Linked DNA regions of Homo sapiens: all the other regions are linked to region 1. The links come from fine-mapping of genetic effects on plasma protein levels. Region 1 holds a variant in brackets. A gene starts in each other region. All regions are shown on their reverse strands.

Region 1 (7,990 bases):
TGCGTGCAGGCAGGTGAGTCTGTCCCCAGCTGTCCCAGGTCCCTTCTTCTCACTGGGGACAAGGGCCCAACCCCGGGCAGCTGGGGGTGGAGATAGCTGTTCTGGGCTGACTGATGGGGACGTCTGGAGGGTCCTGGGGCTGAGAGCTGGAATCTGAGGGATGGGGATGTCTTGGGATCCAGCCTCTGATTCCATTCTAGGCACCCTCCCCAAACCCACCCTCTGGGCTGAGCCAGCCTCTGTGATAGCTCGGGGGAAGCCCGTGACCCTCTGGTGTCAGGGGCCCCTGGAGACTGAGGAGTACCGTCTGGATAAGGAGGGACTCCCATGGGCCCGGAAGAGACAGAACCCACTGGAGCCTGGAGCCAAGGCCAAGTTCCACATTCCATCCACGGTGTATGACAGTGCAGGGCGATACCGCTGCTACTATGAGACCCCTGCAGGCTGGTCAGAGCCCAGTGACCCCCTGGAGCTGGTGGCGACAGGTGAGAGGACACTCAGGGGTCCCAGCCCCAGGCTCTGCCCTCAGGAAGAGGGTCGGCTCTTAGGGACGTCTACCTCTCACAGCCCAGCCCTGGGGATGATGTGGGAGGTCGGAGCCCCACTTAAGACGTGCCTCCTTCTCTGCTAGGATTCTATGCAGAACCCACTCTTTTAGCCCTGCCGAGTCCTGTGGTGGCCTCAGGAGGAAATGTGACCCTCCAGTGTGATACACTGGACGGACTTCTCACGTTTGTTCTTGTTGAGGAAGAACAGAAGCTCCCCAGGACCCTGTACTCACAGAAGCTCCCCAAAGGGCCATCCCAGGCCCTGTTCCCTGTGGGTCCCGTGACCCCCAGCTGCAGGTGGAGGTTCAGATGCTATTACTATTACAGGAAAAACCCTCAGGTGTGGTCGAACCCCAGTGACCTCCTGGAGATTCTGGTCCCAGGTGAAAAAGCCACCACACTTCTTTATATAATTTTGGGGAACCAGATAGGTTGTTGGGAGTTTGGTTGATGACTGATCATGGCAAGGACCCCAGAAGGATGTGTTGATGGATGGGCTGAAGGCGTGAGGAAGACCCCACGGGGAGGCTCAGATGGGGAAACAGGAGCCTGAGTCACCCTCACCTGGAAGGGGTCGACTCAGGAAGGCAATGGGTGTATTTGCTGCAATTTCCTGTCCCTCAATGAGGAGAGGACAGACCAGACAGACAGTGGCCAGGAGTCAGAGAGACACTATCGGTCTGGAACTACTCCAAGACAGACCCAGGTGAGAAGGAG[G/A]CCCCGGGATCCGAGACACAGAGCGTGAGAGACAGTGAGACCTGCAGGGCCAGGACGCCAGGACGGGAGAAGGAAGGGGCGGGGGAGGAACCAGCCTTCCAAGTCCCAATTCCTCTTTCCCTCCAGGCGTGTCTAGGAAGCCCTCCCTCCTGATCCCGCAGGGCTCTGTCGTGGCCCGCGGAGGCAGCCTGACCCTGCAGTGTCGCTCTGATGTCGGCTATGACATATTCGTTCTGTACAAGGAGGGGGAACATGACCTCGTCCAGGGCTCTGGCCAGCAGCCCCAGGCTGGGCTCTCCCAGGCCAACTTCACCCTGGGCCCTGTGAGCCGCTCCCACGGGGGCCAGTACAGATGCTACGGTGCACACAACCTCTCCCCTAGGTGGTCGGCCCCCAGCGACCCCCTGGACATCCTGATCGCAGGTGAGGAGCCCAGCGGGTTCAGTCAGGGACCCAGGCTCTGCACAGGTCCTGCCGGGGGAATCCAATTAGTGATGGCCGGGATGAGGCGGGGGGGTGGTCCCAAGGGAGGGAGAGACAGACAGAGACAGGGGATGGGTGGGGAGGGGAAGACTCAGAGAAAACAGAGACAGAGGCTCCTAGAGAGGCCTGGGGAGGTCTCAGCTCAGAGCAAGGTGGGGCAGCCCCTCACCCATCCTTCTTCTCTCCAGGACTGATCCCTGACATACCCGCCCTCTCGGTGCAGCCGGGCCCCAAGGTGGCCTCAGGAGAGAACGTGACCCTGCTGTGTCAGTCATGGCATCAGATAGACACTTTCTTTTTGACCAAGGAGGGGGCAGCCCATCCCCCGCTGTGTCTAAAGTCAAAGTACCAGTCTTATAGACACCAGGCTGAATTCTCCATGAGTCCTGTGACCTCAGCCCAGGGTGGAACCTACCGATGCTACAGCGCAATCAGGTCCTACCCCTACCTGCTGTCCAGCCCTAGTTACCCCCAGGAGCTCGTGGTCTCAGGTGAGGGCCCTGACCCTGTCCTGTCCAAGCTCAAAGGCTCAGCTCAGGCCCTGCCCCCAGGAGAGCTCTGGGCTGGGATGGAGTCGCGGTGCGGGGGGGAGGGTTTGAGGGGGGCTCAGCCAGAGGGAGACTCACCCCTCAGAGGGGAGGAGGACAACGGGGGCTCCCCAGGCATGCCCACACTTGGCCCCATCTCCTGGGATGCAAATGGTGAAAGGTGAGCAGAAGAAAGTTTCCAGAGAAGCCACGGGCAGGTGGAGGGACGGGTTTCCTCACTCAGCACCAAAGCGCCTCGCTCCCTTTCTGTGCTTATTCCCAGGACCCTCTGGGGATCCCAGCCTCTCACCTACAGGCTCCACCCCCACACCTGGTGAGTCACTGAGGCCTCTGGGCTCGGAGGGAGCGTGGTCTCCCCCCAGGCAGCCCTGAGTCTCCCCGAGGATCCTATTCCCCTCAAAGACTCAAGCGGGAGCTTCCCTCCAGGGAGCTGGGCAGAGCCAGAGGAGGGGCCACAGGCTCCCCGGGGCTCTGAGGCTGGGCCGGTGAGGGGGCGGGCGTCGAGGCAGAGAGAGATGTTGGGTGTTGGGGCCCAGCCTGGGGGAGGAGCAGCCGGGCTGATGTGGGGAGCAGGGCAGCCCCAGCCCTCACCTCCCCGTCCTGACCCAGCAGGCCCTGAGGACCAGCCCCTCACCCCCACGGGGTTGGATCCCCAGAGTGGTGAGTGAGGGGCTCTGAGTGGGAGGTGGGCGGAGACCAGGGGAGGCAGGGGTGGGTTCTGTCGTAGGTTCAGGCTCCTCTGGAGATGGTGAAGTGCACAAGCCCTTCCCCTGCCTGGGCCTCAGTTTCTCCAAGTGTAAAGGAGAGAGGCCTGCATTGATGGGATTCTTCAGGGGACTGTCCTGTCCCACCGGCAGCAGTGACGGTGACCTGGGGCAGGGGAGGGGAGCAGGGCCGTGGTTTGGGGCATTCAGGCTCTTTCCCTGCAGCTCCGGGGCTCCGCTCAGGTGCAGAGAACAAGGGCTGCGGGTCAGACTCCTGGGTTCACTTCCCAGCTCTGCCGCATCCCACCGTGGGCCCAGGCAGGTCAACTTTCTACTCTGACTCAGTTTCAGCAGCTGTAAACTGGCTCAGTCCCATCCAGCTCACAGAACTGCTGCGAGGCGTAAGCAAAATCATGGGACCTGGCCCTGTACACAGCTCGGCAGGGGCACCGTCCTCCTGCTACCCTCAGCCCTTCCCAGATACACACAGAGCCCCTATCCAGACAGGTTCTGCATGGGAGTATGGGAACTTGGCAGAGTGGGAAACGGACCTGGCTGAGCTGGGAGTGAGAGCAATGCAGGGTCCGTCCTGCACAACCCACTCCCTCTCCCAGGCCCTGCTGTGCTGGGGAAGGGAGGATCCTAAGAAGGACACCAGCCCCAGATGGAGACACTAGGACAGGCCCCTCCTGTCAAATAGGAAACAGGTGTGCACCTGGTGGGGCAGCAGGAGGACAGCTGGGGAAAACACAAAGTCCCTGGTTCCCTTCCCAGACCTGCTTCTTCCAGGCTGAGGAGCCTGGGGCAGGCGATTCCCCTCTCTGAGCCTCAGTTTGCTCCTCTGTGAATTGGGGGGTTGGCAATCCCATGTTGCACAACTGCTGTGAGGGTTGGAGCTCATGAAGGAAAGACCTAGCTCGCGCCTGCACACAGAAGGTGCTCACATCAATGACGTCATCCCCATTCCCAACGTCATCACGCTCAAGGTCTGGGAAGGCACCTGGGGGTTGTGACTGGGGTCTCAGTGGCCTTCGTCCTGCTGCTGTTCCTCCTCCTCTTCCTCCTCCTCCGACATCGGCATCAGAGCAAACACAGGACATCGGGTGAGTAGGGAATGGGGGAACCCGTGGGCCGACCGAGGGTGGGCTCGGGGCACCAGCCAGAGGGAAACCAAACACAAAGGAAAGTCAGCTTAGAAAAACTGCTCCAGAAATTCCCAGGTGAAAAATCGATCGAGAAAGAAGAGAATAAATGTGAGCATGTGTGGAAGTGCTTGATTCTTCTGATTTTACTTTAAACTTACGACGTATTTAAAGCCTCAGTGCCAGTGGGCCTCCAGGTTTCCTTCTTTCCGCTCGAGTTGTGTGTGCAGGGCAGCTGGTTCGAATTCTCCCAGGCCTGACCCTCTGTCCATCTCTGTCCAGCCCATTTCTACCGTCCTGCAGGGGCTGCGGGGCCAGAGCCCAAGGACCAGGGCCTGCAGAAGAGGTAATTCTGCATGAAGACCCAAGACTCCCATCCACCCGCACAGCCCCCTCACTGCCCCTCACACTCCCGTGTCCTCCCCCAGGGCCAGCCCAGTTGCTGACATCCAGGAGGAAATTCTCAGTGAGTGACTAGAAGCGGAGGGCACCTGGGGTGGGCAAGGGAGCACCAAAGTTTCTGTAGCAATGGGGGCAGGAGCACAGGCTGGGGGGGGTCTGGGGCCAAGGGGGAGGCGGTCTGAACCCACACTGTGGGACCTCAGGGACATCACAGTCCCTCCCTGGATCTCAGCCACCCTAGTGGGAACAGGGCAAGGGCTGGCAGGACGGAGAAGTCTCAGAGAACCTTCCCAGGAGATGAACCCCTTGCTCTGGCCCAGCAGATGCTGCCGTGAAGGACACACAGCCCAAGGACGGGGTGGAGATGGATGCTCCGGTGAGGCCCCGCCCCTGTCCCGGGCACCAAAGGCCTCCTGGTGCCAGATCTAATCCAGCAGGACTTCTCTGTCCTCCTTCCCCCGGCTCTCAGCATCGTCACGGTGGACCCCTCCTTGTCCAGCACGCTGCCTCCCGCCTGCTGCGACCTCACTCTCTTCTGCTGTCCTGGGACCTCGTGGGCCTCCTCCCGGGTCCCCTTCCTGCTCCTCATCCTCTGTTTGGCCGTCTGGTTGTTAGAGCTCTCCCCAGGCCTCAGGAGGATGAGGAATAAATGAACCGACCCGGTCCCCCAGGCTCCCCTTCATTCATTCAACCAGCGAGTGTTCCCAGGGAGCTCACTGTGGATGGGGCTCCCCATGGGAGCTGCAGACACAGCAGGGAGCAAAGCCGCCCCCGCCTCCTGAGCTCACCTCATGGTGGGAGACAAAATGCAAATAAATGCATCGTGTCCAGGAGTGCAACGTGCTGTAAGGAACATAAACCAGGGAAAGGGCAGAGAGTGTGGGGCAGTGGGGCCAGTCTGAATGGAAGGGGAGGGCTGTCTGCTCAGCTGTCATCTGAGAAGCCTGGACAGAGTGGGGCACACGATCCTCTGATGGACGAGCCCCTGCAGGCAGAGGAAACAGCCGTGCAAAGGCCCCGAGGCAGCAGCGAGCTCTTGCGGGAAGGCCCGTGAGGCTGCAGCCAAATGGGCAAGGTCAGAGTGAGGAGCAGAGGCCAGAACCACAGGGAGGGAGCGGCCAGACCCTCCACGGCCTTAGGGCGTCCCTGAGATTCCATCAGGAAAGGGATGTAATCGGATCACCCCGGGAACAGTGAGGAAAATTGACTCCAGGAGGTCAGGGGGACTCAAGGACACCCCCCACCACTGTCTCTCTCCAGCAGAGCCCACACGATGAAGACCCCCAGGCAGTGACGTATGCCCCGGTGAAACACTCCAGACCTAGGAGAGAAATGGCCTCTCCTCCTTCCCCACTGTCTGGGGAATTCCTGGACACAAAGGACAGACAGGCAGAAGAGGACAGACAGATGGACACTGAGAGAGTCCTTTCCTCTCCAGGCCCCCAGGCCTCCCCCACCCCCACCACGTTCCTTCCCTCTCACTCTCCCCCGCTGCAGGCTGCTGCATCTGAAGCCCCCCAGGATGTGACCTACGCCCAGCTGCACAGCTTGACCCTCAGACGGGAGGCAACTGAGCCTCCTCCATCCCAGGAAAGGGAACCTCCAGCTGAACCCAGCATCTACGCCCCCCTGGCCATCCACTAGCCCACGGGGGACCCAGATCTCATACTCAACAGAAGGAGACTCAGAGACTCCAGAAGGCACAGGAGCTGCCCCCAGTGGACACCAATGAACCCCAGCCAGCCTGGACCCCTAACAAAGACCACCAGGACATCCTGGGAACTCTGGGACTCACTAGATTCTGCAGTCAAAGATGACTAATATCCTTGCATTTTTGAAATGAAGCCACAGACTTCTCAATAAATCAATGAGCTGAGAAAACTGAAACAGAAATTAGAGCATGGTATAAATTTGGAATGATAATGTAAATATTACACATTAAATGATGAAATCGGAAAACTACAAATGAGCGAATGAATTAGAAAAGAATAAAACCTACGTAATTAATGACCTTGGCAATGACAGAAAGAATTTAGAAAAAGAACAACAAATTATTCCAAATGAAGGTGTGAGGAAGGGGACAAAAATAACAAGAGGAGTTACTAATGAGGGCTACGTGAAAACTCGATGAAGCCAAAAAAGCTCATTCTTGAGAATGTGAATTACATTCACAAATCCTAGCCACAATAAGCAAGGAAAAAAGCGGGGTTCAGGCACACATTTCCATATGGGGGTGAAACAGCAGACACCACCACAAATCTGACACATATTGCCTTTATTTTTTTCACTTTTAAGTTCAGGGATACATGTGCAGGTTTGTTAGACAGATAAACTTGTGTCAAGGGGATTTGTCTTGGTTTTTGTGTGAGGGTTTTTGTTTTGTTTTGTTTTGTTTTTTGAGACGGAGTCTCGCTCTATCACCAGGCTGGAGTACAGTGGAGTGATCTCGGCTCACTGCAACCTCTGCCTCCCGGGTTCAAGCGATTCTCCTGCCTCAGTCTCCCGAGTAACTGGGACTACAGGCACCTGCCACCACGCCCGGCTAATTTTTGTATTTTTAGTAGAGACAGGGTTTCTCCATGTTGGTCAGGCTGGTCTCAAACTCCCGACCTCAGGTGATCCGCCCGCCTCAGCCTCCCAAAGTGCTGGGCTTACAGGCGTGAGCCACCACGTCCAGCCCATACATTTCAATTTTAAAGGGATGCGCCCTAGTCCTTAGTTAGTCTCTCCTCATCTCTATAAAATGTTCAGCTACTCACCTCTTGGGCTATTGCTAGACATCGTTTTCTCTTCCTTCTTTCTGACGCCTACAATAGATAGGACATTCCCCCTCCTCATTCTATTCTCCCAAGTACTTTAAATTGCAATTTATAAAGTTTCTATGCTACACTCTAAAAAAAATTCTGTTTTGTTTTCTAATTTCATAATTGGTGCTTCACTGTGTCTTGTCCTCGAAGGAATGAGTATTTTGATTGTGTTCATTAAATCTGATTTTTCTATGTCTTCTAATTATTTTATATAATATTCATTCTGCTGTAGAAAAAAAAATCATATAATCCTGCCTCAGAAATTCAATGTCCTCTGTATTTCTCAAATATTTAAACATGTTTAACCTAAGATGGGTCTCACACATTCCTAGTACTCCTTTTGACCATGATAATCCTCATTAGTGAGTGTGGATTGTCAACCATAGCACTTTGTGTTTGATTTTTTGGTTTGTTTTTTGTTTTTATTTATTTATTTATTTATTTTTTGAGACGGAGTCTCACTCTGTCACCCAGGCTAGAGTGCAGTGGCGTGATCTCAGCTCACTGCAACCTCTGTCTCCTGAGTTCAAGCAACTCTCCTACCTTAGCCTCCCGAGTAGCTGGGACTACAGGTGCCCGCCACCACAACCAGCTAATCTTTTTTTTTTTTTTTTTTTGTATTTTTAGTAGAGATGGGGT
Region 2 (7,990 bases), not on the chromosome of region 1:
ACATATATCTTCCAAAGACTTCTACGTGCACGTGTCTAGGAACTTTATTCATAATAGCCTAAAACTGAAAACAACTTAAAAGTCCACCAACTAGCAAATGGTTAAACAAACTGGAATTCCATGGTCCATCCAACGCACCACTACTCAACAATAAGAAAGGAACAAACTTCCAATATATGCAAAAACATGGATGGATCTTAAAAGCATTATGCGACAGAGGGTGGACACAAAATATGACATTCTGGAAGAGGCAAAACTACAGGGATAGAAGTTAGATCAGTGATTACCAGGGGCTGGGAGGGAGTCATTTTTCTACAAAGGGACACAAGGTAATATTTAAGGATGATGGAAATGTTCTATATATTTCTATTCCGGCGGTGATTACATTACTGTGTATGTTTGTTAGGGCTCATCAAACTGTAGACTTGATGAAATTTATTGCATATAAATTATACCTCAATAAATCTGACTTTAAAATGATAATAAGGACAAGAGTTAGCAATATGCCTGCGGGAATTAAGTGACTTGTTGCATGCTGGTTCCCGCAGTTGTCTGGATTTCCCCTCCCTTCTTCCTGCCCCACCACAGAAGCACGGCAGTCCTCCCGCACTTTCTGGTGAGACTCAGGTGATGGGACCAGCACTAGGCTAGAGACCACTCAGGAGGGTGGGAGGTCCAGGTGCCAGTTCCAGTTCAGCTTCTGATGTTAACTGGGGCAAGTTACTGAGTCACCCTCAACCTCATTGCAAAATGAGGACTTTTCACTTCTTTCCAGGCCTATGATTCTAATTTGTAGTCTGAAAAGGAATGAAGGCTATCCAATGAGTGGTGTGTCCACACCGTGAAGGTCTGGGGAAAGGACAGGGCCCTAAACCCTCCCATTCTTCAGAGGCCCCTTTTTCTACCCTCAGGTACTGTAGTGGGCCCTCTGACCCTCACCAGCCTTAATCCCCAGGAGTTCAACAAGAGAAGCAAGTGGTTCATCATCACCCCATAAGGCCACACCCTGTGATTCTTATAAATGAGGCCAGTAGACAGTAGCTTCCAAAATTCTTTCAGTATCATATGCACTCTGTTGTCTTAGCAGGCATGGGCAGATCCCATTTACAAATGTTTAAGAGCAACGCAGGATCCCCACACAAAACAGCAGCCTCCACCTAGGCTCCAATATCTGACCCACGGGAGCTCCACTCTTCAGCCTCCAGGAAGACACCCTACAAGACATGCTACACACCTCTGCAAACACAGTGTTCTGAGCTCAGTTTCTGGTCCTGAATATCAGAGTTTAAATTTCCATTCCACCGCTTACTAGTTGTGTGACCTTGGATGAGATATTTAACCTCTCTAAGCCACAATTTCTCCTTCAGTAAAACAGTGATAATAATAGTCCCCATCTCCCAGGGCTATTGGGTTGATTAAATAAATCACTGTGCATCCAGTTCTTAGAACAGTGTAGCAAGCACTTAGTGTTAGTTATTATGATTTAATTTCACTTAATTTGAAAACTGTCATTTCTTGTAAGTCTTGGCAAATGCAGAGGTTTCTTTATTAATGTTCAATGTCAAAAGATGAGCTATCTTGGGGTGAAGAGAAAGGTTGCTTGTGTTGAACCCAAACTAGACTCAGACTTGAAGCTGCTACTCAGTTTTTTCTCACCAGAGGTAGGTGCGGATGGGGAATTTCCAGGTTGATTTTGAATCCAAGACTTCTCCAACAATGCTATACTTATCAAAAGTAGATTTAGGAGTATGAGGAGATAGGGAGGGTCATCCAAATAAGACAGAACCGCTCCAGTATGCCTGCACCGTGGCCACGATACCTTCAAAGTACTGTCTATGTACCAATTTCTGTTGAGGAAACAAGGTACAAAGAAACTCCCATATGGATACTAGCAGGATTTGCTAGTGTCTGGGGAAGATTATAAATTAGCTAGTTGCTGCTCACATCAGAGCCAAGCAGGGCACATTCAGTTTTTTAATCTGGACCAATTTTCCGGATCAAAAACTAGTCTTTCCAAGGGATGTAAATGAGCCCAGGAGGGAAATTTCCCCTGAAGTTATGAAGTAGCTGTCATTTTAATCTGAGAAGCTTTCCAACCTGAAAGCTAGTGTCTGGATAAAATTATAAAGTAATAAAAATAAAACTCTTCTAGGTTGAACCTAGTCTAAACACTTCTATCTCAAATTTGATGTAATTAATATGCCAAAGTATTTAAGAGGTGGTGTTTCCACTATCAAAACCCTATCTATGCTTCAAATAAAACCAAAGAGGCCAGCATGGCATATTCCTGGCATGAATATCAGAATGAGACCCTGAATGAACCAGGTAGAAAATCTTTTTAGGAGAAGAACTCCAAAAAATAAGAAGGAAAATATGATGACCCACATGAGCAGTTTTATACAACAGGTTTTTATAAAATGCTTTTTAAAAATTCCCCTTAAATGGATTAAAATATATCCTTTAAAAAGCATTGCATACACTGTTCATGCTTTAAAACTATAGATATAACTATGCTTTGTTTAAAAATTGTGACAATTAATAGATGATTTCATGTGAATAAATCTGCAAAATGCAATTGATCGTGATGTGGTTATCTTAAGGAGGAAAGTTAGAAAGAAGCCCTTCACTGAAATCCTTGAAGGTATATGTATGTGTGCGTGCAGGAAGAGAAACAATTTAATGTGATATTACCTTGGACTGAAGCTATTATCTCCAAAATGAATTGAAGAGCTCATAAATGGAGTGGCTCATAATTTAAATATGGTGTAGATTATGATAATGACCTTAGATTTCAAGGCAGGTAACAAGTGCTGGTAATAAGAGACACAGTGCAAAGACTGAGGACGCTTCCAGAGCCGAAATGCAACAAGTCATATTTCCAGATAGAGAGTTTCAATGCGAAAATATTTAAGCATTCACATGGGATCCCGCTAAGACGATTTTCTCTGCCCTCTGATAAATTTTCCTAGCTTTGCCTCTTTCTTACAGAAACGTTTGTGAAGACAAACTGCACTTTCTGTGAGGTTTTGCAGACTGCATTCAAATAAAAGTAATATTGTTTTCCATTGTTCATAAGATATAATTAATCCCATAAGACAACCTCCCTTACAAAGTAAGTTAAGACAAAACAGATTTTTCAGAATTCTAAATATGGTCCCAGCAAAAAGTAATAAAAATCGTTATTTGGGAAACAATGTTTAGAACTTCATTGTTCAGAATGTTCTACTTTGAATAATCTCACAGCATAGGCCAAATCAAAGTAGACCAAAATAAACGAAGACTTTTTACCTATATGCAGCTAGAGGAAACACACGTTATTATGGTTTCAAGTTCTCCCCCAATTCCCAGTCCCTTATAACAGGTTACAACGTACATTTCTTTGTTTAAATGCCAAAGCAAAGACAGGAGTTCAAAACACGGTAAAATTAACCCACTGGGTGCTTCCTTCTGAACAAATGGCCCCAGAGTGGAAGAGGATGCTAAGAGCAGAGTCCACATCCCTGCACAACGCGTGGGCAGGACCCGAGATGGGCAGAGGGGGCTCCAGGCAACCCTTCAGACACTTAACAGGAAATGGCTGGGCTCTGGACAATATGAATTGAGTAAAATGTTTGGAGACGCAGGAGGGGCTGGTTTGACTCCTCTGCATGGTTGCCATCCTCTGTAATTGAGACAGCACGATCGCTGTCCCAACTGTCAGCTCTCTGCGGTCAAACACGGGGACCACCACCTCTATCTACTATGTCTGGAAAATTGATCATTCTTTTAATAAATAAATATCCCTAGCGCCGCCCGGGCTCGGGGGAGGGCGAGGTTTGCGTCTTTTCTCAGCTCCTGGCAGAGCTGAAGCGAGTTAAGCAGACGTTGGTCGGGGAGAGGGAGGCGGTGCGCTGCCCGCTCTGTGTCCTCGCCCCGGAGCCCAGCAGGGGCGCTCGGGGCGTGGTGGCTCTGGGCGGAGGAGCGCATTACCTGGTTTTCGGATGGCCGCTCGGAGCGACACCGCGCCGGGTCCGAGGCTGGAAGCCAGGAGCAGGAGCCGGAGCAAGACGCCTCGGATTAAATCCATTTCGCAGCCGGCGCCTGCAAAGTTTCACCAAGTCCCGGGCGCACACGGAAAGGGCGTCTCCGGGGGCGCGTGGGGGACGCGGCCCCAACGGATCCCCGGGCCGGGGCGAGGAGGTGGGGGGCTGCGAGGGCTGGGCCCGGAAACACGGGTAGTTCCAAGAGGTAGGACTGCAGCCGGGAGGTCGGCGTGCGCGAGTGAAGCCGGCTGCAAGCTGCAGGGCTTTTCGCGGGGGCGGGGGCGACGAAGGAGGCCGACTGGGAGGGAAGGGCTGGCCGCGGGAGGGAGGGAGGCTCGACCGGCCCGGGGATGAAATTACAATCGAGTGGAAGTGAGAGGGACAGGCCCTGAAACCTTCACTCCTCGCCCACCTCGGAAGCAGACAGCCCGCCCCTCACCCTCTCTAGCGACCCCCAGCGCAGCCCTTCCCCGCTGGTGACCTAGATTGGGGACCTGGGAGGGACCGACTTCAAGCACTGGAGACGCAGGGCAGGAGTTAGGCGACTGCGGGTCCAGGACCCTCCGCGGTCCTCACCCTGAAATCTTGGGGCGCCCCCCCTCCACCCCACCTGGGCCCTCCTCCTGCCGCGCCCCTCTAGGCGACTTTTTCTAACACCTCAAAGGTTGCTGTAGTTGGTCCAGCGCACTTGGGGGATGCGAGGGGTAGACGGGGGTCTGTGATTTGCAAGTGGGGTGGGGGTGAGAGGAAGAGAGGCGGGACCGTCCGGGTCTGAGGCGCTAAGAAGATAAATGGGATTTAAGGCTCGCAGATGGAGAGCTGAGGCCAGGCCGCTCAGACTGGGACGCCGGGTGGAGATTAGGGCCTGGAGCGGGGGAGTGGGGGCCCTTCCCGGCAGAGGAAGGCAACTTGAGACCCTCCTGGGGAGGAGATGAAACTCCAAGTTAAGCCTGGCGTCTTAGGGAGGGACGCGAGCTCGAGCCCCCAGGCGGACCGAGAAAAGCCCCTGGGCGGCGCCCAGCTGGGCCTGGGGCAGGGGGCCGGGGCGGGGTCCTGGCCTCTGATCCCGGGATCGGGCTTCCTGGGTTGTCTCCTGAATGGAGAAAGACTCTTTCTCCGCCGCTGAATTTGCTGCCCTAGGACTCAGTAAAATGTACCTTTTGCCAGATTTCGCGGTAGTGCCTGGAGAGGGGAGACCCTGCCTGGGACACAAGTCCCGTTGCATACTGGCGTTCTGACCTCCAAACCAGCGAGAAGAGAAAGCAGATACAATAAATAAACCAAGAGGGAATAAACTTAGAGGCAAACGCGGCCCTCGGCAGTTCCTGGGGAAAGATCAAAGGCCGTAGGAAGTGCCCCGCAGAGGAAATCTGCAGTCACTAGCGACAGGACCGCGCCCGCCCCCTCCCCACCTTGCAACGCTGCCAGGACTCGGTGGGCGTCCTGGCTCTTCACAGTTAGCCTATGTTTGGGAGCGCGGGAGGAAACAATGTTGACTGATATATTCTTCTCCCCTCCCCAGCCCCCCAAACACACACACACAGGATTTCTACTCCTCTTTTAAGAATGAAATATCCCCTGGCTGGAGAGTTTGTAATGAGCTCAATCTTGTTAGTTAGCAAAGCTGAGTGTGTTCCCTTATGTGTTGGCATTTTCAAGTGTGCAATTGTCTGTTCACAAATAAATTCAAAGTCCCCTCCAACTTGAGTATTTGGAAGTTTTAGCTGTGACACCAGAGCTTGTCCTCTTACATAGAACTGGAGCAAAGTTCAGACAGAACTATGCTCTTCACGTCCAAGGTGACCATAAAGCCGGCCACTAAGCTAAGCAAAGTGACTGCCCCCAAGGCTGCTAGTCTCAAAGGTCTCAAAATCATAGACTTTTTAGCATTTTAAAGGTCATCTAGGCCATGCCTCCACTCCACGCAGGAGTCTGCTTTCAGCATTGGTGTCGGGTCGTGCCACCTCCCTTTGAACTCCACCTGTGTGAGAGAGCTCCTCCAGCGCCAGCTGAGAAGTTGTTAGAGGCCTTTCTTTATGCGAAAGTGATTTCTTATCTCGGACTTAATGTGGCACCCAGAACCAAGCGAGTGTTGCAATGCAGATGCCTCCCATGCAGGCTTTCCTACTTAAAAATGATTCTCTGTGATGCTGAAACTGGAAGTAATAATAATCGTTGATATTATGGCTACCATTTATTTAAGGTCTCCTATGTACCAGACCTTCTTTGAAGTGCATTTTAATCCCAATAACAACCATACCAGGAAGATACTGTCATTACTATTCTCGCCTTTTACAGGTGAGGAACCTGAAGCATGGGAAGGTTAAGAAACTTGCCCAAGGTCATGCAGCTCCCATGCAGCGCTTGAATCCAAGGGGTCTGATTCCAGCTTTCAGGCTTTTGAGAGAACAATGTGGAAAGTAAACACAGCAGTGGACTGAGAGGATCGGGAGATGTGGGTGTTTAATCCTAGGCTCTGCGTATAGTGTGCCTTGGTAAAAATGAATGGGCTGGACGAAACAATCAGTAAATTCCAGGTTTTGCTTTCTCTTTAATAGCTGATAAAACAGCATCATCTAATCTAAGCTACCTTTACTCTGCATGTGCCTTTTAACAGACCCTGTGCAAATTGTCCACTGCAAATTTCGCAAGCCTGGGCAGCCTTCTTGCCAATGTCCTCCTCATGTGCCCACACCACCTCGGCATCCCTGGCCCTGGGCCTCCCTTCCATTTTTTTGCAGATGACCATAGGCGATTTGGGAAATAGGCTTGGTTTCTTCAGAGACCCCTCTTGTTTTTTCCTTGGGGAAAAACAACATTAGATTATACTGTTGTATTTTTACCTCTGAGGGCCTGCAAACACTCTGGATCATCAGGCCATTGAGATAAGACCTTATTTCACAAAATCTGCTTCAAATCTAGAGCACATGTTACATTAAACTTATTCCCTTCCTTTGCAGTTCAAATCGCATCCTCCAAGGGAACTGGAAGATTCCCTCTCCTTCCAGTTTGAAAACCAACTATGGCATTTGTAAATCTGACTAAAGACAAATAGAACACTTGCCTTTCACTCTCTTCCTGCTTTCTGAGAGGAGGGGAACTAAAGAGGGGCCAAGAGGCTTTGAATGTTTCATTAAAAAAAAAAAAATCTGTTCAAATTCACTGGAGGTCTAAACTCAATTAATAAGGTCACCAGCAGAAGAGTGACCTGCCTACTTTGCTCATTATCATGGAAGAGGAATCTGACCTTTGCTGCATGGAATAGATTTGGAGGCTGGTAGAAGAAAGTAAAGGCAAACTTATCAATTATAGAATGTTTATTAAGACTCTAAATGAGAGTGACAAAGAGGCAGCAGCCAAGAATCATCTTTTGATTTATTTTTCTAAATTGGTTATATCTACATGTAAAATTTGAAATGCAGATCAGGCAGAGTGTATAGTGAAAAATAAGTTTCCTTTTCTTCCTTCTACCATCACCAGTTTCTTGGATATCCTTCTAGAGATGGTCTATGAATGGACAAGCTAATTATATACACATATATTTAACGCAACCAAGAGCATCTTCTACGTACTTCTTAACCTGATGATCCTTCCAAATCAGCAGATACAGATCTGCCTCCTTCTTACTAACTGCTGAATAATATTCTACATGTGATATGTAATTTATTTGTTCTTTCTTCTGTTGTTTCCAATTATTATAAACAGCAGGCATGAATGACACTGAATATGTAATAAGTTGCACATGTTATAGTAGACTGTAGGGTTCATTTCTAGACTAACCATGCTCGGTCAAACAGTAAATGCCTTTTCAATTTTGATAATTTGGCTACATTTCCTCCCAAGGAGGTTGTACTATTTTACTCCCCAATAAGCAGTATATGTGCCTAACTAATTCCGTGAACTCTCACCAACGTAGTGTCTTATCAAACTAGAAATATAAATATACATATATTTATATGTTACATTTT
Region 3 (7,990 bases), not on the chromosome of region 1:
ATGCAATCTCAGCTCACTGCAGCCTCTGCCTCCCAGGTTCAAACAATTCTCCTGCCTCAGCCTCCCAGGTAGCTGGGGTTACAGGCGCGCCACTACACCCGGCTAATTTTTTTGTATTTTTAGTACAGGCAGAGTTTCACCATGTTGGCCAGGCTGGTTTCGAACTCCTGACCTCAGATGATCCATCCACCTCAGCCTCCCAAAGTGCTGGGAATACAGGCGTGAGCCACTGCACCCAGCGCCCATACCCTGGCTCTGCTTTTAATCTTTATTATCTTTATTCTCAGGTAGGTTCTCCCTCTGAGATGTTAAAGATGGCTGCCAGCAGCTCCAGGCTCATTTGTTAGGAATGTGACAACCTCCATGGAAAGAGAAGGCCTCTAGCTTTATAATTCCAGCAAAAATCCTGGGGCTGCCTCTCACTGGTTCGATGTGGGTTAGGTGTTCTTTTTTTTTTTCTTTTGAGATAGAGTCTGGCTCTGTCGTCCAGGCTAGAGTGCAGTGGTGCGATCTTGGCTCACTGCAACCTCTGCCTTCTAGGCTCAAGCCATCATCCCACCTCAGCCTCCTAGGTAGCTGGGACCACAGGCGTGCACCACCACGCCCACCTAATTCAGGTGTTCATTTGAACCAATCGCTGAAGACAGAGGTGGTGTTCCGATTGGCCAGGTCTAGATCAAATGCCCACTCCACCCTCAGCCAAGGGATAGGGTAGGCTTTATTTTATGTATATTGACGCAGGGTGGGGAGGAGCGATTCCCCAAAGAAACAATGAGGGCCATTTCTAGAAGCAGGGAGAATGAATGGTAAACAGGAAATGATAGACATCCATCACAGGCTCTCAAATTATGTTTCACAGCTGTAGCTACCTTGAATTTTCTGGAAGTCAAAGAAGGGGCAGTAGAAATTGAGAGAGATGGAGAGATTTGAGAAATATTTATGTAGCCTGGTGCGGTGGCTCATACCTGTAATCTCAGCACTTTGGGAAGCTGAGGTTGAGGAGATAGCTTGAGCCCAGGAGTTTGAGACCAACCTGGGGAACACAGTGACACCTCACCTCTACAAAAAATTAAAAAATTAGCTGGGTGTGGTGCTGCACGTCTGTATCCCAGCTACTTAGGAGGCTGAGGTGGGAGGATTGCTTAGAGCCTGGGATGCTAAGGCTGCAGTGAGCCATGATCACGTCACTGCACTCTAGCCTGAGCAACAGACTGACACCCTGCCTCAAAAAAGAAAAAAAAGAAAAATATTTAAATAGTGGAATGAACAGAACTAGGTGGCTAAGTAGGCTGGGAGCATGAGGAAGAGAGAGCTCTTGGTTGCAAGCAACAGAAAATGACTCTAGCTGCTTCAACAAAAGGGAATTTACTTTGTGAGAAGGTCTTCGGGAGTTCACGGCATCAGCTCGAAGGAATAGGCTTGGAAATGTGCAGGAATTAAGAGCCACTGGAAGACTAGGAAGCAGGAAGTACAGTGATTTCCCTTGAGCAGACACGGAAGTTGTCCACCTAATATCCATGCCACCGCTCTTCCCTGTTTGCAGAGTCCCAGTTCTGTTCCAGTGGCCACTTTACCTCACATGCCTCTGACCCAGATCCAGGGTTAATAGGTTTAGGCCAGTGATGGGGATCCCCTTTTCCTTGCCAAACATGGCTTAGGGATGTCATGTGAGCCTGTTCTAGCTAAGAAAGCATGAGGAGAGGTCTGCTTGAGATTTGAGGGAGGGTTCCTCATTCCTAAGAAGGAGCTAGTGGAAGGGAAGGTGCCTCTTCTTTGCTTGAACATAATTGAGTTGAAGTGTGATTCCTGGAGCTGTGACAGCCATCTTGTGACCATGAGGGCAGGCAGCCTGAAGGTCTGCACACAGAAGACAAACAAAAAAAGAAAGAACTTGGGTTCTTGATGACATTGTTGAACCACTGAAAGCACTGTTCCTGGAGTCCTGCTGCTCCAGACATCTGGTGACATGGGATGATGAATTCGAATTGCCCTACTGCATATGCTTGGTTTTTGGAAGGCATCCTGACTTAATGCCATGTAGCCGGGATGATTTGGTCAGGGCACAGGTGGTGCAATGCCAGACCTCCAGCTTTTCCTGCCATCCTTGTGTGGCTTGATCAGGATTCAGAGCCCTGGGAGAAAACACTATTGGCTGAGTTTAGGTCCCTCTGGCTATACTATGGTAGGGAGAGGTTGGTCTGGTCCATTAGGCTTCCATAGTGGAGATGGTCTCTAGAAAGTACCCTTTCAGCCGGGTGTGGTGGCTCACGCCTGTAATTCCAGCACTTCGGGAGGCCGAGGTGGGCAGATCATGAGGTCAGGAGTTCGAGACCAACCTGGCCAACATGGTGAAGCCCTGGTCTCTACTAAGGAGACAAAAAATTAGCCGGGCATGGTGGCGTGGGCCTGTAATGGCAGCTACTTGGGAGGCTGAGGCAGGAGAATCACTTGAACCTGGGAGGTGGAGGTTGTAGTGAGCCGAGATCGCACCATGGCAGTCCAGTTTGGGCGACAGCGCGAGACTCCATCTCAAATAAATAACTAAATAAAAATAATAATAAAGTACCCTTTCACCACCACAGCTGGGGAGGGGTGATCACAAAATGAAACTGGGAGAGGAAGAGGAAGGGAGATGGATGTTGAACATCCAAATGACCATTAATGTCCACCTGACACCTCATCTCACACTCCCTACAAGGCACCTTATGCTCACCACATTCCCCATTTGACACGCTGCATTCAGGCTTCTGTGCAGTTGTATTACTCACTCTGCCTGCAAACCCCTACTTGTGGCGAAGACCTGTTCAAAAGGCCCCTTCCATGTAGAGGAACAGCTGCCTTCTCCCCAAGAGGAAGGAGCCAATGTGGGAGTGGCCTTAGGGCCAGGGTCTATACTCAGGAGCAATCAAGAACTGACAGAGCCAGGCATGATGGCATGAACCTGTAATCCCAGCTATTCAGGAGGATGAAGCGAGAGGATCACTTGCGCCCAGAAGTTCCAGGCTAGCCTGGGCAACTTAATAAGACCGAGTCTCTTTGAAACAACAAAAAAGGTGACAAAGGTAGTTTCGCTTTAATGACTCGTCAATATATCTAATAGTTTCACTTTCATCATGGAGTTAACAGCTGTCACGTCAATGACTTTGAAACCAGTTACCTTTGAAACCAGTGGTTGGAAAGGTGCCCCTCCTCTCCTGCCCTCCTCTTTCTGTGTTTCTGTTCCAAGAAGTCTTCCACAGCCTGCCTCTCTTCCAGCAGAATTAATAAATTGCTACACTCAGTCTTCATTTCCCATAAATTACTTTGTATAACTTAGGACTTTGTATAACTGAAAGTGACAGAAGTCCACTCAAATTGGTTTTATTGGCTCATATAACTGAGAAGTCTATTTTTTTTTTTTTTTGGAGATACAGTCTCAGTCTGCTTCCCAGACTGGAGTGCAGTGGCACAATCACGGCTCACAGCATTTTGGACCTCTGGGCTCAAGCAATCCTCCTGCCTCAGACTCACAAGTAGCCGGAACTACAGGCACGCGCCACCATGCCTGGCTAATGTTAAATTTTTTTGGAGAGATGGGATCTCACTATGTTGCCTACATCAGTCTGGAACTCCTGGGCTCAAGTGATCCTCAAGTGATCCCCAGCCTCCCAGAGTGTTGGGATTACAGGCGTGAGCCACTGTGCCTAGCCATAACTGACCAAGTCTTAAGGATACTTCTAGTTTTAGGATGTAGGCTCTCAAAGTCATGAGAAATCAATCCATCAGTACTAGTTCTCAAATGTCGTGTAACAAATCACCCTAACTTGTGGCTTAAAGCAACAACATTTAATGATGATTTATCACAGTTTCTGATGGTCAGTTTTGCCTTGAGGTCTTTCATAAGATTGCAAGCCAAATGTCAGCGAGGGCTGCAGTATCCACTTCCAAGGCAGCTTATTCATGTGGCTGTCCAATTGGCACTGGCTGTCAGCAGGGTGCTTTCCTTTCTCCCTACATGGGCTTCTCTGCAGGGCTGCATGTGTGTCCTCACAACACAGTGGCTGGCTTCCTCCAGAGTGAGCAACCTAAGAGACCGAGGCAGAAACTGCAATGTCTTTTATGACCTGGGCTTGGAAGTCCAACACCCTCACTTCTGCCATATTTTTTTTTTTTTTGAGACAGTCCCTGTCGCCCAGGCTGGAGTGCAATGGCACAATCTCTGCTCACTACAACCTCCACTTCCTGGGTTCAAGCGATTCTCCTGCCTCAGCCTCACGGGTAGCTGGGATTACAGGCACACGCCACTACGCCCGGCTAATTTTTGTATTTTTCATAGAGATGGGGTTTGGCCAACACGTTGGCCAGGCCGGTCTTGAACTCCTGACCTAGAGTGATCTGCCTGCCTTGGCATCCCAAAGTGCTGGGATTACAGGTGTGAGCCACCACACCCAGCCACTTCTGTCATATTCTGATGGACACACAGAACAGCCCTAACTCAATGTGGGAAGACACCATACAAGGGCATGAATCCTAGGTGGTGAGGATCAATGGGGGCTGTCTTTGAGGCTGTCTACCACAGCATCTTTCCATCCTTCCTGCCCTGTTTGCTTTGCTTTTCCTATGTGTAGGCTTCATTCTCAAACAGGCCCTCCCTAGAGAGTGACAAAGGTGATCATCAATGTGTTCAGACCCACATGCTCTGTGCTTAGTAACCCCAGTGCAACTTTTTTGCTTTCCCAAAAGTTCTGGCAAAAGTCCCAAGCTAGCACTTTAATTGGCCTAAATTGTGTATATGCTTATCTCTGAACCAATCACTGTGGATTAGAGATGTCATGCTCTGATTGACCAGACCTAGGCCACATCTCTAGCCCTAGCTCTGAGGGTAGAGTTGGCAGCACTAGAGCCCATGGAAGAAGTAAGAGAGGAGTCGTTGCTAAAGGAAAAATCAAAGTGTCATTACCGAACCAGGACAGATGCTGGGCAGCACATGTGCACCCCGTCTTCTTCTCATGTTCCAGCTGCACATCTTAGTGCCCCTTGGTTTAGCACTTTTCTCATTAAATCATTTGCTTTCTTGCCTCACTTCCTGTGGTTGGTAGAATGCTAAGATGGCCCCAAGATCTCTACCCCTGGTGTTTGCACACCTCCCAGTTATTCTGTCAAACATGAATGTAGATGCTTCTGTGAAAGAATTTTGCACATGTAATTTAAGTCCCAAATTGTTTGACCTTAAAATAAGGAGAATGGCAGGGCCAGGCATGGTGGCTCATACCTGTAATCCCAGCACTTTGGGAGGCCAAGGCGGGCAGATCACGAGGTCAGGAGATCGAGACCATCCTGGCTAACACAGTGAAACCCCATCTCTACTAAAAATACAAAAAATTAGCTGGGCGTGGTGGCGGGTGCCTGTATTCCCAGCTACCCAGGAGGCTGAGGCAGGAGAATGGCGTGAACCCGGGAGGCGTAGCTTGCAGTGAGCCAAGATCGTGCCACTGCACTCCAGCCTGGGTGACAGAGCCAGACTCTGTCTCAAAAAAAAAAAAAAAAAGGAGAATGGCTTTGGTGGGCCTGACCTAGTCAGGTGAGTTCTTAAAAGGCGACACATGGCCCGGTGCAGTGGCTCAGGCCTGTAATCCCAGCACTTTGGGAGGCCGAGGCGGGTGGATCACGAGGTCAGGAGATCGAGACCATCCTGGCTAACATGGTGAAACCCCGTCTCTACTAAAAAGACAAAAAATTAGCTGGGCGTGGTGGTGGGCTCCTGTAGTCCCAGCTACTCGGGAGGCTGAGGCAGGAGAATGGCGTGAACCCGGGAGGCGGAGCTTGCAGTGAGCGGAGATTGCGCCACTGCACTCCAGCCTGGGCGACAGAGCGAGACTCCGTCTCAAAAAAAAAAAAAAAAAAAAGAAAATTAAAAGTGGGTATTGTTGTAAGATGCTGAGTTTATGGTAGTTTGTTACATGACAATAGAAAATGAACACACTTCACAGTGGACTCCAAGATCCCCATGATCTTTGATCTCCTTAACCTCCTGATCTCCACAGGACCCAGAGCATAAGAATGTCCCTTCTTCTGCTTCCAGTCCCACTATCTAGAAAAGAGAGGAGGAGCCCAGCTCTTCATTTCACCCCCACCCACAAACTCCCAACTTTCCGGCCCTCAAGGGGTGACCAAGGAAGTTGCTCCACTTGGCTTTCCACAAACAGCCTGTGCCCCACCAGGCTCAGGAGGGCAGCTTGACCAATCTCTATTTCCAAGACCTTTGGCCAGTCCTATTGATCTGGACTCCTGGATAGGCAGCTGGACCAACGGACGGATGCCATGAGGGCTCTGCTGCTCCTGGGGTTCCTGCTGGTGAGCTTGGAGTCAACACTTTCGGTGAGTGCTGTGGGAACCAGGATTGTCCCAGGATTGTTCTGGGGGGTCGCTATCACAGCCATGAGCCATGGCCTCTGCTCATGACCTGTGGGTCCAGGTGACTAGGAGGCCTATGTGGAAAGGTGAGGCCAGCCCGGAAGGCCCAGGCAGAGGAGACAGACAACCAGACTGGGTGGATACAAGGGCACAGCCTGCATTTCTGGGGGAGATGGGCCTTAAGAAGACAACGGGGGGAGGTAGAAAGGGTTTGGGTCTTGGGAAGAAATCTCTGCATTTCTGGGCTGTGAGAGGAAGCTGCAGACTAGCAACAGATCGGTGGCAGGCTATGACTTATAGTCAGTTCCCTGCCTTCTTCTCTCCCTTGTAGATTCCACCTTGGGAAGCCCCCAAGGAGCATAAGTACAAAGCTGAAGAGCACACAGTCGGTAAGTGGCCTGGCTCCTCCTCCCGGGAACCCTTGGGTGGGGATGTGTATGGTGCAGTGTGTGCAGTCTCAGGGCAGTCTAGTCTAGTGCCTACCTGGTGCTAGGTCTTATGCCCATGGGCACTAGAGTGATCGTGAGCTGTGTGATCCTTGAGGGCAGGGTATGGGCTGTGTCTAAGTGCCCACGAGCCTGGCTCGGAGCAGGTGCTTGAGATATGTGCTGCTGGCGCCATCACACCTGGGCTCCTGCCAGCCTTCCTCAGTTTCCCCAGCTTCTCCCCTTCTTTTCCTTTCCCCAGTACGTCTCATGGGCATCATTCATGCCACACAGAGGCCAGGGCCTTCAATGGGCAAGGAAGGATCAAGAGCTTGTCTCTGGCATCTGAATGCCTCTGAAGCCCAGCTTTATCACTTATGAGCTGGGTGACTCTGGGCGAGGGATTTGAGTTCTCCAAGCTTCAATTTCCCCTTCTGTGAAACCAGGTTGATAACAGTAAACCTCTTAGGGTTGTTGAGAAGGGAAACCCATGTGAGGTATTCAGCCCATCACCTGGTGCATGGAAATGCTTTACAAATATTAGCTTTTATTATGAAACTACCTTTTAGATGAAGGGTACCTGCCATTTCCCCCTTCCTCAAGCTCTGCCATAGCTCCCCATTGCTTTCATTCTTCCAGACACTAAATTACCTACATGCCAGGCATGGTGGCTCATGCCTGTAATCCCAGCACTTTGGGAGGCCAAGGTCGGTGGATCATGAGGTCAGGAGTTCGAGACCAGCCTGGCCAACATGGTGAAATGCTGTCTCTACTAAAAGTACAAAAATTAGCCAGGCATGGTGGCATGCGCCAGTAGTCCCAGCTACTCGGGAGGCTGAGGCAGAAGAATTGCTTGAACCTGGGAGGTGAAGGTTGCAGTGAACGAAGATCACACCATTGCACTCCAGCTTGGGCAACACAGCAAGACTCCGTCTCAAAAAAAAAAAAAAAATTTACCTAGAGTGTGGCACATAGCAGGGCCTGTGAACCAGATGGACCTTACCCTGGTGGGCCTGACTTGGTGGGGTTGAGTCTCTAAGCATGGCGTTGAGGCCCAGCACATTCCAACCCTGGACTCCCTCAGCCTCCTCTCTTCACCCCACACCCAAAAGTTTCTCCTCTCTCTTGCCTTACCCAAACTTGGTGCCCTATCCTTGCCTAATCCCCTGCCT
Region 4 (2,054 bases), not on the chromosome of region 1:
GCGTCCCCCAAGCTCTGGAGAGTTTCCCGTGAATTTATTTCCATCAAAATAAAAAAACAACCTAAGCAGTGATTTTAAAAACCAGTGGTACCCCCACCCCACCTCCCCCATTTCCAGTGGTTGGAAAGCCTGAGCAACAGAAAAACCAGAAGCCAGCCTTGGAGAAGCCTAAATACCATCAAGGAATGGTCTAGGCCAAGTATGACCCTCCTATCCTAGAGGCAAGGGGCAGAGAGGTTTGGGAAAAGGGCAGGCCCTGGAAACCAGGCCCCAACACGAGGGTACTGGGTAAGGGAAGAGAGGCTAGTTACCCCGTATCCTAGGTCCCCTTTAATCAACGGATACCAGATCTCATCCATCCTCCTCCCTGCACCAAGCTTCCCCCATATCAGCTGCTCTGGCTCTGGCACGGCTGGGGTTTGGTTCAATGTGGGTTCTGGTTTCTCCTTCCACCCCTCATCACAGACAATATCCTGTGCCAGGCAGCTTGGAGCTCACCCTGAGGCCAGAGCTGTGACCCTGCCTGCTCACCCTCCCCTTTCCACAGGAATCCGGACATCGTGGCTGGCAAGTGGGCACACAGAAATCTGGCGGGCTGGGGCGGGACTGCCCACAGAACTTAGGGTCTGGCAGCCAGAGCCGTCCAGGGCTGGTCCCTCGACCTGCCCCACCCCCTCCCGCACCCCTCCTCACAGTCCTGGGGCCACCGCCCGAATGTGGCATCTGCCAAGTACACCTCGGCGCCACTCAGCCGCCACCCTGAGACCCCTCAGGGGCGGGTCCTGACCACTAGGGTTGGGGATGAGGGATGGAGATATTTCGGGGCGATGAAGGAGGGGGGATGGTGCGACTGTGCTTGTGGCCTGTGGTTTCCAGGTGTGTTTGCCATTCCTGTGGGCCACTCTCCCCCACTTCCCACTTCTCTGCTTAGCCTTCAGCGGTGGAAAAAGGGGATGAGGGCGCCGGCGACAGAAACGCAAGCGGGGTTGGAAGAGAGGGGTGGGGGCGCGCCCGAGGGTGGGGAAGGAGCTCGGGTCTACCCAGGGCCAGCTTCGGCGCGTCGAGTCTGAAGTGGGAGACCGACGCCGGGGCGGCTCTCACGCTCGGCAGGCGCCGCACAAGCGCCCCTTTAAAGCGCAGGCAGCTGGCCCACCGCAGGGAGACGCATCCAGCTGTCCGGCCCCGCTTCCTCCCGCCTCGCATCCAGGGCACCCGGCCGAGCGTGTGTGGATGGCGCGGCGTGGAGGCTCAAACCTGAGCAAACAAATAAGTTGAGGGAACGCCTCCCTCTCTCCGATGTAAACTCGGGGCTCCAGACATAACTATTCCCCCTTCCCAGAAAAGCCCCGGGAAAGGCGGTAGGCAGAGGAGCACCATAGGAGAGCGGGGGGCTACAGCCGGGGCTCAGGGCTCGGGGCTCGGGGGCCACGGTCCCACCCCCTCATGCACGGTAGCCGGCTGGGGGAACGGCCCCGCCCCCTTCCCCGTGGAGGGCGGGGGCGCATCTCTGGGCGCGAGCGAGTTAAGCCCAGTGGCCTCGATGCTCCACGTAGGAGCTGGCTCGGCTGCCGGCTGCGGTCAGGGCCACCGTATAAAGAGGGCGGCAGACCCGAGCGCCTAGGACTCGCCGCTGCCCGCGCCCCGCCGCCGCTGCTGCCCCCAGCCCCGGCCCCAGGCGTCCCAGCCATGGTCCGCCCAATGCTCTTGCTCAGCCTCGGCCTCCTGGCTGGTCTGCTGCCGGCGCTGGCCGCCTGCCCCCAGAACTGCCACTGCCACAGCGACCTGCAGCACGTCATCTGCGACAAGGTGGGGCTGCAGAAGATCCCCAAGGTGTCAGAGAAGACCAAGCTGCTCAACCTACAGCGCAACAACTTCCCGGTGCTGGCTGCCAATTCGTTCCGGGCCATGCCGAACCTCGTGTCATTGCACCTGCAGCACTGCCAGATCCGCGAGGTGGCCGCCGGTGCCTTCCGCGGCCTCAAGCAACTTATCTACTTGTACCTGTCCCATAACGACATCCGCGTGCTGCGCGCAGGTGCCTTCGACGACCTGAC

Direction of the effects. Positions count from the first base shown, and alleles are read on the strand shown. Strength reflects both the effect of a copy and how common the allele is.
For the plasma level of the protein whose gene starts at base 4,262 in region 2, allele G in region 1 goes with a higher level than allele A (strong association).
In carriers of allele G in region 1, the plasma level of the protein whose gene starts at base 6,264 in region 3 tends to be higher than with A alone (strong association).
In carriers of allele A in region 1, the plasma level of the protein whose gene starts at base 1,620 in region 4 tends to be higher than with G alone (strong association).

Evidence for each region. PIP is the posterior inclusion probability: the model's chance that the variant is causal. Protein levels are from antibody-based Olink assays in UK Biobank. Linkage for the fine-mapping came from a reference panel and not from the study's own genotypes, which makes the PIPs less certain.
Region 2: EGFLAM starts here. The variant in region 1 is fine-mapped to the plasma level of the EGFLAM protein (UK Biobank, PIP above 0.99).
Region 3: it holds the start of F12, and the variant in region 1 is fine-mapped to the plasma level of the F12 protein (UK Biobank, PIP above 0.99).
Region 4: it holds the start of CHAD, and the variant in region 1 is fine-mapped to the plasma level of the CHAD protein (UK Biobank, PIP above 0.99).

What each region holds. Positions count from the first base shown.
Region 1 is chr19:54,248,984-54,256,973 of GRCh38, reverse strand. LILRB5 (leukocyte immunoglobulin like receptor B5) reads left to right here. Exons shown (of 13, transcript NM_001081442.3): 2 at 1-13; 3 at 201-485; 4 at 632-931; 5 at 1,392-1,688; 6 at 1,937-2,239; 7 at 2,559-2,609; 8 at 2,906-2,956; 9 at 3,987-4,103; 10 at 4,425-4,488; 11 at 4,571-4,608; 12 at 4,868-4,920; 13 at 6,042-7,553. The coding sequence ends at 6,188. Among named protein-coding and RNA genes, the nearest start is that of LILRB5, 4.3 kb to the left of the region's middle. RefSeq lists an enhancer at 4,863-5,480. The variant G/A (reference allele first, on the strand shown) is at 1,266.
Region 2 is chr5:38,254,831-38,262,820 of GRCh38, reverse strand. It overlaps EGFLAM (EGF like, fibronectin type III and laminin G domains), which reads right to left and starts at 4,262. Exons shown (of 22, transcript NM_152403.4): 1 at 3,970-4,262. The coding sequence starts at 4,066. LOC124900966 (a long non-coding RNA gene) reads left to right here and starts at 4,155. Exons shown (of 2, transcript XR_007058739.1): 1 at 4,155-4,227; 2 at 5,190-5,724. RefSeq lists an enhancer at 5,131-5,632.
Region 3 is chr5:177,407,838-177,415,827 of GRCh38, reverse strand. F12 (coagulation factor XII) reads left to right here and starts at 6,264. Exons shown (of 14, transcript NM_000505.4): 1 at 6,264-6,357; 2 at 6,725-6,782. The coding sequence starts at 6,301.
Region 4 is chr17:50,468,446-50,470,499 of GRCh38, reverse strand. It overlaps CHAD (chondroadherin), which reads left to right and starts at 1,620. Exons shown (of 4, transcript NM_001267.3): 1 at 1,620-2,054. The coding sequence starts at 1,687. The region is part of intron 10 of ACSF2 (acyl-CoA synthetase family member 2); the gene reads right to left. RefSeq lists enhancers at 747-1,704, 1,705-2,054.